Homo sapiens: one gene and its partners. The protein of the gene in region 1 purifies or fractionates together with the protein of each later gene. This does not show direct contact. Each region holds a gene or a part of one and is shown in the gene's direction. Other genes may lie near its edges. The genes, in order: PIN4, RACGAP1 and SYNRG.

The links.
Region 2: the proteins of PIN4 (region 1) and RACGAP1 purify together in Homo sapiens (affinity purification with mass spectrometry; one large-scale study listed by BioGRID and IntAct). This does not show direct contact.
Region 3: the proteins of PIN4 (region 1) and SYNRG purify together in Homo sapiens (affinity purification with mass spectrometry; one large-scale study listed by BioGRID and IntAct). This does not show direct contact.

Annotation. Positions count from the first base shown.
Region 1 is NC_000023.11:72,195,228-72,198,881, forward strand, and holds the end of PIN4 (peptidyl-prolyl cis-trans isomerase NIMA-interacting 4), read left to right. Parts: intron 1-1,557; coding exon 1,558-1,677; intron 1,678-2,140; coding exon 2,141-2,299; 3' UTR 2,300-3,113; downstream 3,114-3,654.
Region 2 is NC_000012.12:49,994,348-49,998,001, reverse strand, and holds part of RACGAP1 (rac GTPase-activating protein 1), read left to right. Parts: intron 1-797; coding exon 798-962; intron 963-3,492; coding exon 3,493-3,588; intron 3,589-3,654.
Region 3 is NC_000017.11:37,599,271-37,602,924, reverse strand, and holds part of SYNRG (synergin gamma), read left to right. Parts: intron 1-2,521; coding exon 2,522-2,562; intron 2,563-3,654. UniProt on the Homo sapiens protein: Plays a role in endocytosis and/or membrane trafficking at the trans-Golgi network (TGN). May act by linking the adapter protein complex AP-1 to other proteins. Component of clathrin-coated vesicles.

The DNA of each region.
Region 1 (3,654 bases):
GTAAACATAGGTCAAATTTGAATACTTCAGTAGGGTTGGGCGTTCTTAATATTCAACCTATGATACCTTTTCAAAGTGTGGAATTGTGGGGAGGCTTATACATTGGGTCTCTTTTAGTAAGAAATACTTCCTGGCCAGGCACGGTGTGCTGACACCTGTAATCCCAGCACTTTGGGAGCTGAGGTGGGCAGATCACTTTAGGCCAGGAATTTGAGACCAGCCTGGCCAACACAGTGAAACCCATCTCTACTAAAAATACAAAAAGTTAGCTGGGCGTGGTGGTGCGCACCTATAGTCCCAGCTACTTGGGAGGCTGAGGCAGGAGAATTGCTTGAACCCGTGGGTGGAGGTTGCAGTGAGCCAAGATCGGGCCACTGCACTCCAGCCTGGGCAACAGACGGAGACTCTGTCTCAAAAAAAAAGATAGAAATACTTTCTAGCAGGTTTTTTCTTATCCTCACTCTGATGAAATAATAGCTAGCCGTTGGTCAATGGTAGCTGCATTATCTCAATCTTCACAATCCTATGAGAACACATAGGTCCCGTTATCATTGCATCTTGATGTACAAATGGAGAAACACTTGGAGGTTTAAAAACATGCGTAAGTTCAGCCAGGCATGGTGGCTGACGCCTGTAATCCTAGCACTTTGGGAGGCCGAGGCGGGCAGATCACTTGAGGTCAGGGGTTCAAGACCGGCCTGGCCAACGTGGTGAAACACCATCTCTACTAAAAATACAAAAATTAGCTGGGCGTGGTAATGGGTGCCTGTAATCCCAGCTACTCGGGAGGCTAAGGCAAGAGAATTGCTTGAACCCGGGAGGCAGAGGTTGCAGTGAGCTGAGAGCACACCACTGCACTCCAGCCTGGGAGACAGAGTGAGACTCCGTCTCTAAATAAATAAATAAATAAAGCCTAAGTTCATACAGCAGAGTTGGGATTTGATTCTAGGACCACAGCTCTCAACCCGTATCGTGTTTCCTCCTCCTGTTAGCATGAAGGTATATGGTAAAAGATGGGAGCTTCCCGGCCGTGAGCGGCGGCTCACGCCTGTAATCCCAGCACTTTGGGAGGCCAAGGCGGGTGGATCACGAGGTCAGGAGTTCAAGACCAGCCTGGCCAACATGGAGAAACCCCATCTCTACTAAAAATACAAAAATTAGCCAGGTGTGATGGCACATAGCTGTAAACCCAGCTATTCAGGAGGCTGAGACAGGAGAATTGCTTGAACCCGGGAGGCAGAGGTTGCAGTGAGCCGAGATCACACCACTGCACTTCAGCCTAGGTGACAGAGCAAGACTCCTTCTCAAAAAAAAAAAAAAGGCGGAGCTTCCCACAGCCAGGTGCCTATTTTCCATCTAAATCAGGACTCTGAGACATTGTCTTAATATGGGGAATGGGATTGTGGTTGTTGTCCTGGGCAAACTTCCAGGATTTTTACTTGCTATGAACTAATGTGTTTTTTTTTTAACTGGTGGGGGTAATCCAAATGTAACCACTGTACTTTAAGGAGTCATTTGGGTCTCCAAGTATTACATGAATGTACTTTTTCCTTGCAGGTCAGACACATTCTATGTGAAAAACATGGCAAAATCATGGAAGCCATGGAAAAGTTAAAGTCTGGGATGAGATTCAATGAAGTGGCCGCACAGTATAGTGAAGATAAAGCCAGGCAAGGGGTATGTTGCTCTTATTATTTATAATTTTCTCTCAAGGTAAGAAAGCAAAGTAAAAATGACAAATAATAAAATAAGATAAAAATTCTCCATCCTCCACAGAAGAAACACAGAAGTAGGGATCATTCCTTTGTTCAACCATTGGTTGTAGCGATATTTTGGTTTAAAGATCTCAAAAGCAGAAATGTCCAACTTGTAAATAGTAGAATAAGGGTCATCTATGTCAAAACCTATGCATGACCAAACTTGCACGGCTAACTTCAAAGTCCAGCAGTGTTGAGAGTACTTATGTGTTCAGTCTAGTTAGACTTCTTCTACCTATTTGTCCTTATTGAGCCTATTCCTGTATTGCTCTTAGGAATATACCTCGTAACCTTAGCAAAATGTTGGGAAATTCTCTCAAGCTACAGTAGAACTGTTCCCTCTTCTGGGCCACTTGATATCACTTATCTTTTGGGTTTTTCAGGGTGACTTGGGTTGGATGACCAGAGGGTCCATGGTGGGACCATTTCAAGAAGCAGCATTTGCCTTGCCTGTAAGTGGGATGGATAAGCCTGTGTTTACAGACCCACCGGTTAAGACAAAATTTGGATATCATATTATTATGGTCGAAGGAAGAAAATAAAATCATATGAAAGACTGAATAAGTTTTATACATTTTGTTTCTTTAAAAGGTATTACATATTCTTTTGAGCTGGAGCTGCAAGGAAATACAAAAATTTTTAAAAAGAAAAGATATTGGATGCTCCTTGTATTCTGTGAAAGCTCTAAGTATGGGTTTGTAGGTGTAAGAGAGGGTGGGGCTAAGTGAATGTCAACTGTAGTAGGTATTCAGTCAGTCTTTCTCAAAGAGAAGTCAAGCAGACTCCCTTTAACCTGTATTCTCTTTCCTCCCAGAACTATATCTGACTCTCAGTCTGTCCCATAAATTAATTCAGAAACCATCTTCAGGGGAAGCAGATATCAACTCACACTATTCACACAACTGAAAATATTGGGCATCAAATAGATTAGTGTGTGAGAATCATAAAATAAGTTCCTAGACAACATTTGTTTTACATGTTAGTCAACTCTGATCTTCCAGGACAGGTGGTATTAGCTCCACTGTCTTAACATAGTACGTGGCACGTTATGCCTTTCAGTGTTAACTCCTTTCTTTTTAAATAAATGTTTATTGGAGGAAAAAAGCACTCAGTTGTTCCATGAGTTGTTTTGTACTAGACTAACCGAGTGCTGGTTAAAGGGAGGGATGTCAGCATAAAAATGTCATTCCCTCATCTTCAGTGTATGGGTTACATTAAGACTGTCCTTTCCAGGGCCAATGTTCTGTGCATCTAAATTTTTAAAATTTAAAATGCCATATTTATGACATATAAAAAAGTATAAAGATTACTAATATAAATACTATACTGCTTCAAAAATAAAACTTTGCCAACACAGCTATGTGATTCTTAACAGATTATTTTAACACACTGCCTTCTCTCCCTCAGCTGCATTTGATATTATACCCACTTATATAATGGGAACTTTACCTAGATACCTGACTTTCCCACTTGAGAAGAGTTTCTGAGCACCTCAGTAGGTTATGCCTCCATGAGATTTTCCCCACGGAGCAGATATGCCAGTGTATACAGAGAAGTTCAAATAGATATAAGATGAAACTATGGCTGGGCCCAGTGGTGTGCGCCTGTAGTCTTAGCTACTTGGGAGGCTGAGGCAGGAGGATCACTTGAGCCCAGGAGTTCTGGGCTGTAGTGTCCTATGCCAATCGGGTGTCAGCACTAAGTTCAGCATCAATACAGTGACCTCATCTGGGCACAGTGGCTCAGGCCTATCATCCCAGCATTTTAGGAGGCCAAGGTGGGAGGATCACTTGAGCCTTGGAGTTCGAGGCTGCAGTAAGCTATGACCATGCCCCCTGCACTCCAGACTTCAGCCTGGGCAACAGAGGCCCTGCCTCTTAAAAAAAAAGAAAGAAAA
Region 2 (3,654 bases), on another chromosome or scaffold:
TAAAATGAAGAAAACAAAACCTATTTTATGGGATTACTGTGAGAATTACATATGTAAATATGTCTAAAGGGCTTAGAAAATTTTTTGGCACATACTAAGTGCTCAATAAATGTTAGTTGATTATGGCTGGGCACAGTGGCTCACGCCTGTAATCCCAGCACTTAGGGAGACTGACGCAGGCAGATCACCTGAGGTCGGGAGTTCGAGACCAGCCTGACCAACATGGAGAAACCCCGTCTCTACTAACAATATAAAAATTAGCCGGGCGTGGTGGCGCATGCCTGTAATCCCAGCTACTTGGGAGGCTGAGGCAGGAGAATCGCTTGAACCCGGGAGGTGGAGGTTGCAGTGAGCCAACCTCTACCACGCCATTGCACTCCAGCCTGGGCAACAAGAGCGAAACTCTGTCTCAAAAAAAGACAAAAAAAGGCCAGGCCCAGTGGCTCACGCCTGTAATCCCAGCACTTTGGGAGGTCGAGGTGGGTGAATCACAAGGTCAGGAGTTCGAGACCAGCCTGGCCAACATGGTGAAACCCTGTCTCTACTAAAAATACGAAAAATTAGCTGGGCGTAGTGGTGGGCACCTGTAATCCCAGTTACTCGGGAGGCTGAGACAGGAGAATCGCTTGAACCTGGGAGGCAGAGGTTGCAGTGAGCTGAAATCACACCACTGCACTCCAGCCCAGGCGAGAGAGTGAGATTCGGTCTCAAAAAAAAAAAAAAAAAAAAGTTAGTTGATTATGATGATAATTTTCTAATTCATATCACTCTGTTCCTTCTGCCCTGTTTTATCCCAGGTTATTAAACCTGAATCCTGTGTTCCATGTGGAAAGCGGATAAAATTTGGCAAATTATCTCTGAAGTGTCGAGACTGTCGTGTGGTCTCTCATCCAGAATGTCGGGACCGCTGTCCCCTTCCCTGCATTCCTACCCTGATAGGAACACCTGTCAAGATTGGAGAGGTATGACTTATGCAAGCCGTCATTGTTTTATGGCCTCTTTATTCGCCTTTCAAAGGCTTAGTGTCAGTTTTTGTTCTAAAATTAATCATCTCAAATATATTTCTTTCCACAAATAATGACTAGAATTGTAAGATACTTACTTGTAGAAGAGTCCTGTTTGGGTTTGTCTGTCTAATACCTTTCTAAACCAAACTTCTTTCCCCGCCCCTTTTTCCTTCTTGCTCTTCCCTGCTTCTCCTTGCCTCTTCTTCCTTCCTTCCTCCCCTTCATCCCATTTTGGAAAATTTCAGACATATATAAAACTAGAGAAATTAGTATAACTAACCCCTGGTTCTTATCACTTAACTTCCATGATTACTAACTTGTGTCCATTTTTTTTTTTTTTTTTTTTTTTTTTTTTTTTTTTTTTTTAGCTCTATTGCCTAGGCTGGAGTGCACTGGCAGGATGTCAGCTCACTGCAACCTCCGCCCCCCTGGGCTCAAGCGATTTTCTTGCCTCAGCCTCCCAAGTACCTGGAATTACAGGCATGTACCACCACCATGCCCGGCTAATTTTTTTTGGTTGTATTTTTTAGTAGAGATGGGGTTTCATCATGTTGGCCAGGGTGGTCTCAAGCTCCTGACCTCAAGTGATCCGCCCACCTCAGCCTCTCAAAGTGCTGAGACTACAGGCGTGAGCCACCGCGCCTGGTCATGTCCATTCTTTTTTTAATGTCTCTCTTTTTTTTGAGACAGAGTTTCCCTGTTGTCCAGGCTGGATTGCAGTGTTGCAACTTTGGCTCACTGCAGCCTCTGTCTCCTGGGCTCAAGTGATTCTCATGCCTCAGCCTCCCAAGTTGCTGGGACTACAGCCATGTGCCACCATGCTCAACTAATTTTTTTGTATTTTTAGTAGAGACGGGGTTTTGCCATGTTGGCCAGGCTGGTCTTGAACTCCTGACCTCAAGTGATCCGCCTGCCTCGGCCTCCTAAAGTGTTGGGATTCTAGGTGTGAGCCATGGCACCCAGCCTTTATGTCTGTTCTTGATTTATCAATACTGTCGTTGCCTCCTCCTGACTCTGTCCAATGAATTACTTGGAAGCAAATCTCAGCTATCATATAATTTTATCTGTGATAAAATTATCTTTTATTCTTGCTCTTATGTTAGACATACTTCATAATAGGTTATCAAAATGAAGTTGCTTATTTCCAAATATTTAACCAGTTTAATCCAAACTGATTAAATCCATTAAGAAATTATTTATTGCTGAGTGTGGTAGCTCATGCCTGTAATCCCAGCACTTTGGGAGGCTGAGGCAGGAAAATCACTTGAGCCCAAGAGTTTGAGACCAGCCTGGACAACAAAGCAAGACTCCATCTCTACAAAGAATAAATAAATAAGTTAGCCAGGTTAGTGGTGTGCGCCTGTGTTTGTAGCTCCTCAGGAGGCTAGGTTGGACTATTGCTTGAGGTGGGGAGGTTGAAACTGCAGTGAGCTGTGATCACACCACTGCACTCCAGCCTGGGGAATAGAGCAAGACCCTATCTCAAAAAAAAAAAAAATTATTATGTAAGTAACATTAGCAAGAATCAAAATGACTATCTTCCTACCTACTCTTCAGCAAATCAAATATTATTTTCCCCTGATCTTACAAGTTCTTATCCATGCCTGTACATTTTGTTTTGTTTTGTTTTGTTTTGTTTTGTTTTTGAGAGGGAGTTTTGTTCTTGTTGCCCAGGCTGGAGTGCAATGGCGCAATCTCGACTCACCACAACCTCCACCTCCTGGGTTCAAGCGATTCTCCTGCCTCAGCCTCCCTCATAGCTGGGATTACAGGCATGCGCCACCATGCCTGGCTAATTTTGTATTTTTAGTAGAGACAGGGTTTCTCCATGTTAGTCAGGCAGGTCTCGAACTCCTGACCTCAGGTGATCCGCCCACCTCGGCCTCCTACAGTGCTGGGATTACAGGCGTGAGCTACCGCACCTGGCCGCCTGTACATTTTTTTTACACATGTTCTGTACTCTAATATAGAACCATGGAGTTCTCCCCTACAGGTAGGTTTGTGTCATAATCAACTGATAAGATATGTTAAATAATTTTTTTTACTGAGAATAATGAAAGTATACACAATTTTTTTCTCTTGTTCCAGCTTTCTTCTGTTAGAAAAAAAAATCTGTTTAGAGTAATAAATTATTTTATATTAAAGGCTATACCTGTAACCTCATTATTGCTTGTTTTCTGCTGTCCTTGAGTGGATGAGAAGGAGGTAATTATAGCTGGTGGTCTTATTCCTTGTTCACATAACAGTGTGGTGTATATATGAAAAAGAAAAAGTGTGGTATATATGATAATAAATCAGTCCTGGTGTGGAGGTAGGAAAAATAATTGAGAGTCTCTGTTTTAATATATGCTTTGGGAATAGGAATGTAAAAGTAGACATGATGTCCCAGTTTGAGAATAAGATTGGAGGTGGTTCTTCGCATGTGGTCTTCATCTGTTGGTCTACATGGCGTAAATAATAATTTAAAGCTCTTTTTTTTTTCCAGGGAATGCTGGCAGACTTTGTGTCCCAGACTTCTCCAATGATCCCCTCCATTGTTGTGCATTGTGTAAATGAGATTGAGCAAAGAGGTCTGACTGAGGTAAGAGTCAACTGTAGGAGATGGTGAATTTGTTATTTGTGTTAATTCGGAGGTTTTTAAATAAAA
Region 3 (3,654 bases), on another chromosome or scaffold:
AGCCTACTGGATAGCTGGGATTACAGGCACATGCCACCACGCCTGGCTAATTTTTGTATTTTTAGTAAAGATGGGGTTTTGTCATGTTGACCAGGCTGGTCTTGAACTCCTGGCCTCAAGTGATCCGCCTGCCTTGGCCTCCCAAAGTGCTGGGATTACAGGCATGCACCACCTCATCTGGCCCCCTTTTGCTCCTTCGCGTGTTAATCCCATTTCCTTAAAAACCTTATAAATCACTAGGTATGTATTTTGTCTCTTAAATTTTTTCTCCCTAGGGTCTCTTCCCCTTTCTTTGTTGAAACTAACTCACTTAACAATCACCATTTTTGAAAGCAGTGATTTATTTTTTAATCTTCATTCTCACCGCTATTCTACAGCATTAGACACTGGTAACTACTTCCTTGTTGAAATGTGGTCCTTCTTCAGTTATAACTCTCAGTTATAAGCACTCCCTTGGTTTTCAATGACCATTTCCTACTCAGTTTTCACTGCAAGAATTCTCCAAGTTTGTCCTTAGTTGTTTTGTTACTGGATATATGCCCTTGGCTATTTCATCTACAACCAGAGCTTAATTTTTTTTTTTTTTTGAAACGGAGTTTCACTCTTGTTGCCCAGGCTGAAGTGCAATGGCGCGATCTTGGCTCACTGCAACCTCCGCCTCCTGGGTTCAAGTGATTCTCCTGCCTCACAGCCTCCTGAGTAGCTGGAATTGCAGGCATGCACCACCATGCCCAGCTAATTTTGTATTTTTAGTAGAGATGGGGTTTCTCCATGTTGGTCAGGCTGGTCTGGAACTCCCAACCTCAGGTGATCCACCTACCTTGGCCTCCCAAAGTGCTGGGATTACAGACGTGAGCCACTGCGCCTGGCCAGAGCTTAACTTTTTAACCTTTATTTATTTATTTATTTGAGACGGAATCTCACTCTGTCGCCCAGGCTTAACCTTTATTCAAAAGAGCCTAGGCCAAGTGCCGTAGCTCATGTCTGTAACCCCAGCACTTTGGGAGGCCAAGGCAGGCAGATCATGAGGCCAGGAGTTCAAGACCAGCCTGGCCATCATGGTGAAACCCTGTCTCTACTGAAAATACAATAATTAGCCAGGTTTGGTAGTGCTCGCCTGTAGTCCCAGCTACATAGGAGGCTGAGGCAGTAGAATCACTTGAGCCTGGCAGGCGGAGGTTGCAGTGAGCTGAGATCATGCCATCACACTCCAACCTGGACGACAAGAGCAAACTCCGTCTCAAAAAAATAAAATAAAAATAAAGTTGTCAGCTTAAAAAAAACCTTAGAAGAGAGCTTTCTTACGCTCTAAAATGAGGACTTATTGTTTAATGGGTACAGAGTTTCTGTTTGGGATGATGGAAAGGTTCTGGAAATGGATAGTGGTAATGGTTGACAATATTGTGAATGTCCTTAATTATGCCATGGAATTATACACTTAAAAATGGTTAAAAATGATAGAATTTTATGTTATGTATATGTTACCACAATAACAATAAAACCTCTGACAACTTCATATAATATTCAAAATAAAATGAAACATTTTAAAGGCCCTTGACCAGGTGCGGTGGCTCACACCTGTAATCCCAGCACTTTGGGAGGCCGAGGCGGGTGGATCACCTGAGGTCAGGAGTTTGAGACCAGCCTGGCCAACATGGTGAAACCCTGCCTCTACTAAAAATACAAAAAATTAGCCAGTCGTGGTGGCGGGTGCCTGTAATCCCAGCTACTCAGGAGGCTGAGGCAGGAGAATTGCTTGAACACAGGAGGTGGAGGCTGCAGTGAGCCAAGATCGCGCCATTGCACTCAAGCCTGGGCAACAAGAGCGAAACTCCATCTCACAAAAATAAATAAATAAATAAAAATAAAAATAAAGGCCCTGTACAATCTGCTTGCTTTTAAATCATATAGTTAACATTTAACCTACATTCATTTCTCCAAACATCCCTGCATCTCTGCCTCAGAGCTTTTGCTCAAAATATATAGTGTGCTTCTATTTTCCTTCAAGATTCAGCTCCAGAGCTACTTCCATAAAACTTCTCAAGATATAGCCCATTAAAATTCATCTTTTTCTTCTCATCTCTATTAATAATTTGGACCTCGCTTATAGCAGTTAGCACATTTACCCTGTGGTATAGTTATTTGCCTGCATATGTGTATTTTTGATTATAAGATTCCATCATTTCATGTAGTTGACACTCAATAGATGTTGACTGAATTGAATCTAAACTCTCTCATTTTATAGATGGGGAAACTGGAATCCAGAGAGGACACGAAGTGACAGAGCCAGGACTAATTTCAGGGTCTTCTGTCTTTTGTTTCAACAAGTTTCCGTCTGCAGTAGCATGCTGACATGCATCCTATGGATGCTCAGTGTACTGATGTTGGGCAATTCAGTATTGTGGTGCAGAACAAACACCAGGTCCCATCTACAAGTCTTTTATCCATATAAAAAAGTACACGTGTTATTTGAAATCTTTGTACATACGAAGATTATAATGTATTTTTATTCTGTTTTCAGCTTCATGTTTCCTGTTGCAGGTGGGATAAGACCCCCTCAAGGTATGTGAGAGCTTAAGTTTTGAACTTTTATTTTTCACTCTTGTGTTTCTGAATCTGGGAATTAAATAAGTAAATAGAAAATAAGTTCTGTTGCTGCTGAATAGAGTAAAATTTTCTGCACTCTTAAACCTGTATGTCCTATATGACAGCTACTCTTAAATTTTCTCAAAAATTATATAATTTTGGGAGTAATAAGGATCACTCCTCGTTTCTCCCAAACTTACATAGACATTATGTTCATAGATTGTTTAACCTCAGAGGTGAAAGACTTTTAGGACAAGAATGTTAAAGAACAGGTGATAAAAATGAAACGAGCTGTAATTCACTTAATGATGTCTTTCTCCTTCTATCTAGTCTTCTGCTAGATTGTTAGTGCCATGTCTGTCTAATGCTCATCTAGCATTATTTGTAGCACCCAGCATGTTGATTCAGCACAATAGGTTATCTGTAGATGTTTGTTGAATGAATAAACAAACATCTTTAGTTGTTTTACACTGCTATTTTTTATCTATATGATAGTATCTTATTATAATCATGTTTTATAAATATATAATTTTGAAATTAAAAGAGATCACATAGTCTGATTCAGCTTAAGTATTTAAGTCTCAGGATTTTGTTTGGTTTTTTATTTTTATTTTTGAGATGGAGTCTCTTGCTCTGTCGTCCAGGCTGGAGTATAAGTGGCACAGTCATAGCTTACTGTAGCCTCAGCCACCTAGGCTCAAGCATTCCTCCCACCTCAGCTTCCCAGGTAGCTGGGACCACAGGTGCATACCACCACGCCTGGCTAATTTTTAAATATTCTGTAGAGACAGGGTCTCCCTATGTTGCCCAGGCTGGTATCAAATTCCTCGGCTTAAGCGATTCTCCTGCCTTGGCCTCCCAAAGCACTGGGATTACAGGCATGAGCCACCACATCCGGCCAAGTCTCAGTTCTATTCCTAGAAATTTCTCTAAGTATACCTTTTCTCTCTTGGTCTCAGACTAGGACCCACCAATATCAATTCTAGCTTTATCTTCAAGGAAATAGTAGTGAAGGAATATAATTTTGACCCATGCTGCCATGCAACTGGGACACAACAGTGAAGAAGG